2 linked regions of the Homo sapiens genome follow. The protein of the gene in region 2 purifies or fractionates together with the protein of the main gene of each other region. This does not show direct contact. Each region holds a gene or a part of one and is shown on either strand. Other genes may lie near its edges. The genes, in order: RUNX3 and EGLN2.

Region 1 (3,807 bases), on a different chromosome or scaffold from region 2:
CCCTTGGAGGACTGTGCACTCCAGGGTTCGGCTGATCAACCCTAACACGGTCACGGCCATTCTACCTCACGTGACTTGGTGGGAGGCTGCCAGTCAGGCAGGGTGGCCAGGCCCTCTTTTACAAGTAAGAGAACTGCAACTGCGGAGAGGCGAGGAAGCTTGTTGGAGGCCACACGCCGAACAAGGGGTGGGATTTCCTGGACCTGGGACCCTTTAGAAAAGATGGAGGCTAGGCATGGTGGCTACGCCTGTAATCCCAGCGCTTTGGGAAGCCGAGGCGGGCGGATCACCTGAGTGAGGTCAGGAGTTTGAAACCAGCCTGACCAATATGGTGAAACCCCGTCTCTACTAAAAGTACAAAAATTAGCCGGGCGTGGTGGCGGGCGCCTATGATCCCAACTACTTGGGAGGCTGAGGCAGGAGAATCGCTTGAACCCGGGAGGCGGAGGTTGCAGTGAGCCAAGATCACACCACTGCACTCCAGCCTAGGTGACAGAGCAAGATTCCATCTCAAAAAAAAAAAAAAAAAAAAATGTGGGAGGGGGTAAGGGGGAGGAGAAGGTTTGCCTAAGGCCTTGGGTCTAGAATGACATGTGCGTTTTCTAGTTTGGCAGAGGGAGAAGAGGCAAGATGTAGGTGGGAGGTAAAACAGAACTCACTGCGCTTCTTGGGGCCTGAACAAGTGATTGCTGGGGACTCGAAAAGTGGGAAAAGCCTGTCGACCACTGTAGGGCATGAGGGGACAGAGCCCGAGGCCTCGCATGGGCCTGATTTCTGATTTTCAGAATGGGAACGCAATGGATTCTGGTACTTGTAGGCCCCCAAGCTCCCTACGCATCCCTGTTGGAAGCTCAAACAGGTATCTGGGAGCCTCAGAAAGAAAGCAGGGGGCCTGGGAGCCACAGGGGCTCAGCCAGTCACCAAGAACCAGGGAGCCCCACCTTCTCCTCCAATGAGGCCCCAGACCAGGAATCCATGGGACACTTGGTGGCAGGAATAAGACCATTTGGTCTCTGGCCAGGCCCCCACTGCTGCCTCCCAGGGCCCTTGGCAACAAAGGGGAAAACATGGGCTGGGGGCGAGTTTAGCTGGAGCTGGGGCTGCAAACTCAGATGCCCATGGGGATGGGGCAAGTCACGTGAACGAGGCAAGTGGGATGGGTGGGGCCTGGAGCGGATGGGGAGGAGATGCCTTGTGGAAAGCACCTGACTGCTACCCTGAGGAGGGCAGGCCCAGTACGGCCAGAGCTTCCAATTCCAGACCGAGTCCTCAGCCCTAACAGGCCTTGGAGGAAATGTTGTCCTTGCTCCTGAGGCCACTGGAAATGGCAGGGAGATGTGGATGAGCTGGGGGACAAGTGAGCAGAAGAATCTTAACAGGCATGAAGCCTGCCGGGTGGACGTGGGGACCACAGACTGATCCGACAACAGCCTGAGTGCAAAGGATCTGGGTGTTTTAGTCAGCCACAAGCTTGAAGGGAGCCAATAGGGCTGGTGCAAAACCTCAGGCCTTGTTACTTTCGTCACAGGAGAATAAAGTCCCCTGTTTCTGAGTCACACCATGTACAAAGAGTGTTTACAGTTACTCCTGCGGCCTGGCGGAAGAGGGCGGGGTTGACAGCCAGCCTGGGTTCGAGGACGGGTCCTGTCACTTGCAGTCTGGTGGCCTCACTCAAGTCACACTCCTTTCCCCCACCCCGAGCTGCGGTGTCCCCATCACACTGTCTTTGTGGGTTGAGGTGCTGGCCTAAGGTGTGGACACTTTCCAGTCACGTGGGTCACCACCATCATGACCATCGCTTTTATCTCTGCTCATGCCCAAAGGAAGCAGAACTATCATCCCCATGCTGGAGACCGGGGTGTGGAGGCCAGGATGCTGAAGTCGTGTGAGGAACACAGAGCCTGAGCAGCAAGGCAGGATTCACACCCGGATCCCCCGACTCCAAGCCCAGGGCTCTTTTCCTGACACTTTCCCTTTTGTTCCCATTGTTTAGACGGGGCCACCGAGGCTTCACCATGAGACCGACGCTGAGCGCCTGTTCCGGGACCCAGGCTGTGGGTCAGGTAATCTGACCCCGGAACCCACGCTCCCACCACATGCTCCCTTGCCCTCCGTAGGGCAGACTTCCCGGAGGAGGGGAGTCCAACAGCACTTCGGAAATAGCTTCCTTGTTACTGTGGAACGCTGGAGCCACTGCCAGGGAGGGGAGAGGGGAGCCAAGGCGGCCCCACGTGGCCAGGGCGCCAGAGAGTCTCAGAGCCACAGGGCCAGGGCTCTCACACTGGGAATAGGACAGAAGTTCCAGTGCCTGAGGAAAGAAGATGGTCTTCAGAAAAAGCCTCTTTCATTCGGTTACCCAGAGCAAGAGCTGCGTGGGGAGCTCTGGCTCTAACCCACTCCGTCACCTTGGGCCCAGTCCTGCTACGCCTCAGTTTCCCCTCTGCACAGTCTGCTCACTGAGGCCCCTTCCTTTTGAAAGTCCCTGATTTAAGGTAGCAAAGATCAGCCGCTGGTCAGAGGGGCCCCAGAAAGAAAAGAAGGCAGGGCTGCTGGCCCCAGGGCCCACCCACTACCACTTCTTCCTGCTGCTGCTGTTCCCAGTATTTCTTGAATATTCTCTGCCCCCCACTCTTCAGAGCCTCAGCTCAGGACAGCCTCTGCCAGCAATGCTTTCTGTCCTGTGAAGCCCAGTCCAGGAGCCCCTCCTCCAGGAAGCCCCCCTTCTCCCACAGTAGATCCCCATCACACCTCTGCAGGCTAGGGCTGTCCTTTAAAGCAGTCGCCAGCAGGAGTGGAAATCATCAAAACGGCAGCAGATGCTTGCTGGGTGCTTCCTCCACGGCAGCGTCTAAGCAGCTGACAAGCACCATCTTGTTTCGCCTGGCAGCATCCCCTTGAGTAATGTCTGCCACCATCCTATCATATGGGTGAAAAAACTGAGGCTCTGGACAGCCAGTGAGCTCAAGGTCAAGCAGAAGACACACAGCCACCTGCTCTCCCTAGAGCCTGTGAAAACACATCTATTGTGGCGGAAGAGGGCGGGGTTCACAGCCAGCCTGGGTTCGATACATCAATAGATGTATCGGGACTCCACAATAGATGTTAGGGCCCCGTCCAGCCCCAGGCCCAGAGCTGCTATCTGCAGGCCCAGGAGGATAGGACTTGGGAGAGGAAGATGAGAAGGTCTCAGTGGACTCCACCAGGGGCCCTTCCCTGCTCTGAAGCTCAGGGTTGAGAGTGCAATTTCCAATCATACCCTGCTCTAGACCACCAAGTCACTCTCTGCCTCTGGGCCACAGTTTCCACATCTGTAAAGTGGTTATCATACTGTCTAACCCCTGAGGGTGCCGATGAGCTGGAGGACAGGCCACATGCTTTTAAAAGCAGAGGACTGAGATGGCTGGGGAAAGCCCCGCGTTGGCCCTCAGGGCCTGTCCTGGCTGCTGTCAGCCTCCAGCTGCTGGGCTCAGATCAGACAGCTCCTCCAGCATGGCCTGGATTAGTGTCTATGACCCTCACTTATGGGAGGGCAGATCCCAGCCTGCCCCTCCCAAGGGCCCAGTGGCCCCAAGCTCATACCAGGCAGCTCTCACCCACCAGTGGTCACTGTCTTGGGCAAGCCACTCTTGCCTTCTGGGCCTCAGCTGTCTTATCTGCAAAATGGGGATCACACCTCTAACCCCCGAGGGTCAGGAAAGGTTTCAAGAATTACACAGCCCACCAGGCCTTGGCCTTTGAGGAAGGTGTTCTGGGTTCCCATTCTGACTTGGCCATCTGCTCCTAGGCAAACAGCTCCTCTCTGATGCG
Region 2 (3,679 bases):
CTGAGACCAGGAAGTCACCTGCCTGATGCCACAGCTCATGTGGCAGCACTGAGACTTGAACCAGGGAATTGTGTCTGCAGAAGTGGCTGGGCCATTTCCTTTACCTCTCAGCCACCTTTCTGCCAGCTCCCTGATGACAAACATCCCGGGGCCCTGGCCACAGCATTGTAGGGCTGGGTCAGGGGAGTGGCAACTGTCAGGCAGAGGAAAGAACCCTGTAGACAGAGAAACCAAGCCCTGCAATGAGTCCTGTTAGATCTCCAGGAGTTGGGGCTCCAGAACCTCCCAAGTTATGTTCTCAGAGAGATTAATTGCTACCGCTGTAAACAGCAGTGTTTATTACCCCTGCTGTACACATCAGGCAGTTGAGGCCCATTCAGGTGTTGGAACTGGCTAGGGTTACCCAGCAAATTATCCTTGGAGTTGGAATTAGGTCTTTCTATTCAGACTGTAGCTTTTGGCTCCTGTTCGGAGGTCTATGGGACAGATAATTTAGTGGGGATTCTTTGTAGTCCAGGGCAGCAGTTCTTAACATTGCTGCATGGTAGAATTACCTGGGAAGCTTTACCAATTTCAGGCCCTTCCTTAGGCCAGGTACTTCAGAACCTCAGAGCTCCCCAGGGGGCTCCACTCCACAGCCAAGGGTAAGAATTCCTGGTCTAGGGCTGTGAGGCCACCTCCTTGCACACCTGAAAATGTTTAAATTGGTATTATTCTACTGAAATGGCTGAGGTGGGGTTTGGGGTATCTTGAAACAAATCAAACTCTGTTACTAATTGAGCCCTAGCTGGGTGCCAGGCCCCAGGTATGTGTGTTGGGAGGGAGTGGGCTCTTGAGGCCCAGGAGCTGAGGTTTCTGATAGACTTGGGGATGGGATTTTGGCTGAAAAAGAAAGTCTTTTGGGGCAGGAGCTTGGAACCCTTGACCCAAGGAGTCATGGGGAAGATGGGGCAAGGAGGGGTGGGAAAATAGGTAATTCATGGCTGCTTCTCTAAGATGTGCCTGCCTAGCCCCAGTAAACCTACCTCCCTCCATCCCTGCCAGGCCATGGTGGCGTGTTACCCAGGCAACGGGCTCGGGTACGTAAGGCACGTTGACAATCCCCACGGCGATGGGCGCTGCATCACCTGTATCTATTACCTGAATCAGAACTGGGACGTTAAGGTAGGGGTGAGGGTGAGGGTGAGGGTGGCGCTGGGGCTAGGGCTGGGGCGGGGGTGGCGTGCGTCCACTCCATTTTCCACTCTCAGCCCAGATTCTGGCATTCTCCTGTTTCTCTTCTCAACACACAGCGGGCAGTGCGATCTGCCGGCTCTTCCTGGGAAATGGCACCTCCTCCTCTCTAGCGGACTGTGTGGTGGGAACTCCCCTCTTTCCGGGAATGGTGCTGTCTGCCCAGCCCCACCCGGCCTTGTAATGAACACTTTCCCCCTTTTCCTGTCTTTAGTAGCTTCCTGCCCATCTCCATGGTGATGCAGTCTCTGGGTTGTCATTCACTTTGAGAGCCCGAGGGGTGGGAGGGAGTGATGCAGGCAGACGCTGCGCCTCCTAGTGGGCTCCCGGGGCACCGTGGGAGGCAGCGGCTCCTGGCCGTACCAGCTAGCCTCATCCTTTGGCCTGCCCCCAGGTGCATGGCGGCCTGCTGCAGATCTTCCCTGAGGGCCGGCCCGTGGTAGCCAACATCGAGCCACTCTTTGACCGGTTGCTCATTTTCTGGTCTGACCGGCGGAACCCCCACGAGGTGAAGCCAGCCTATGCCACCAGGTATGACCTGTACTTCTGGAGACGCACCCAGGTGCTCCCCCTGTGACAATGTCCTGTCAGAGCCTCAGAGTGACTAGGGAGCGACGAAGTATTGAGAGGGGGCCTAGGTGGGAGCAGAACCGGGTGGCTCAAAAGGATGGCCGCCTAGTGTGTGTGGATATGGTAGCTGGAATTGCAGAAAACTAATGTCCAACCACCCTGGTCTCCAGGTACGCCATCACTGTCTGGTATTTTGATGCCAAGGAGCGGGCAGCAGCCAAAGACAAGTATCAGCTAGGTACCTGCTTCCCTCCCTTCAGTCCTTCCTATTCTGTGGGCCCTCTTGGGCCTGATGCCACCCCATCCCCCTCATCAGCCTCTTGTTAAATCCCACCACTCATTTTTCTTCATCTCTGCCCACCTTCCTTAGCCCACTCTCCTGGTACCCCAACAGGAGCCCCATTTCTTCCTGGTCCTCTCCCCATCTCCCCAGGTTTCCCTTGGCTTCTTTGTCCTTCTGATGACTCACTGTCTCCTGTCCCCTCTCACCCCCAGCATCAGGACAGAAAGGTGTCCAAGTACCTGTATCACAGCCGCCTACGCCCACCTAGTGGCCAGTCCCAGAGCCGCATGGCAGACAGCTTAAATGACTTCAGGAGAGCCCTGGGCCTGTGCTGGCTGCTCCTTCCCTGCCACCGCTGCTGCTTCTGACTTTGCCTCTGTCCTGCCTGGTGTGGAGGGCTCTGTCTGTTGCTGAGGACCAAGGAGGAGAAGAGACCTTTGCTGCCCCATCATGGGGGCTGGGGTTGTCACCTGGACAGGGGGCAGCCGTGGAGGCCACCGTTACCAACTGAAGCTGGGGGCCTGGGTCCTACCCTGTCTGGTCATGACCCCATTAGGTATGGAGAGCTGGGAGGAGGCATTGTCACTTCCCACCAGGATGCAGGACTTGGGGTTGAGGTGAGTCATGGCCTCTTGCTGGCAATGGGGTGGGAGGAGTACCCCCAAGTCCTCTCACTCCTCCAGCCTGGAATGTGAAGTGACTCCCCAACCCCTTTGGCCATGGCAGGCACCTTTTGGACTGGGCTGCCACTGCTTGGGCAGAGTAAAAGGTGCCAGGAGGAGCATGGGTGTGGAAGTCCTGTCAGCCAAGAAATAAAAGTTTACCTCAGAGCTGCACACATCTGACTCCATCTGCAATTTAGGGCCTTTATTGACCGAGGAGGGTATGGAGGTTTGAGGGCCAGTGAGCCCACCATAGTGGAGCCTGACCTCAGCAGGCCACTGGCTGGAGCTGGAAGTCTGGGGGGACACTGCCCAGGCCAGTGCACTGCAGGTGAGGTTGATGGTGCCAGGGCGTACCACAGGGAGCAGGCAGAACCTCTGTAAGGTGGCCGTAAGGAATAGGAAGATACCCGAGTGGGCCAGGCCTGTGCCCAGGCACATCTGCTTTGCCGGGTACACAGGTGCACAGTGAGCACCAGGTACCCCAGAGCCAGTCCAGGCTGGTCCCCTTCCTCCTCTGCCTGCACCTGAGGCAAAGGGCATGAAAGCATCATTGCCCTGGAACTTGCCCTTGTCCAGGAAGTTGGTAGGGTTGAAGCAGTCTGGGTCTTTGAATTGAGTGGGGTCCCGGTGTGCAGTCACAAGCAGGGGAATCACAAAAGTGCCCTGGGGATACATGCAACTTGGGTTACCTGCGGGCTTGGTGAGCACCTGCACCACCTCCATCCAAGACGCTTTTTAAAAGCCCAAGGGAATAGGCCGGGCAAGTAGCTCACGCCTGTAATCCCAGCACTCTGGGAGGCTGAGGACAGATCACTTGAGGTCAGAAGTTCGAGACCAGCCTGGCCAACATGGCGAAACCTGTCTCTACTAAAAATACAAAAATTAGCCAGGCGTGGTGGTGGGTGCCTGTAATACCAGGTACTCAGGA

The links.
Region 1: the proteins of EGLN2 (region 2) and RUNX3 purify together in Homo sapiens (affinity purification with western blotting, with the first as the bait; one study listed by BioGRID). This does not show direct contact.

The regions. Positions count from the first base shown.
Region 1 is NC_000001.11:24,909,777-24,913,583, forward strand, and holds part of RUNX3 (runt-related transcription factor 3), read right to left. Parts: intron 1-3,807. UniProt on the Homo sapiens protein: Forms the heterodimeric complex core-binding factor (CBF) with CBFB.
Region 2 is NC_000019.10:40,805,511-40,809,189, forward strand, and holds the end of EGLN2 (prolyl hydroxylase EGLN2), read left to right. Parts: intron 1-1,044; coding exon 1,045-1,164; intron 1,165-1,627; coding exon 1,628-1,764; intron 1,765-1,973; coding exon 1,974-2,041; intron 2,042-2,298; coding exon 2,299-2,354; 3' UTR 2,355-2,924; downstream 2,925-3,679. UniProt on the Homo sapiens protein: Prolyl hydroxylase that mediates hydroxylation of proline residues in target proteins, such as ATF4, IKBKB, CEP192 and HIF1A. Target proteins are preferentially recognized via a LXXLAP motif.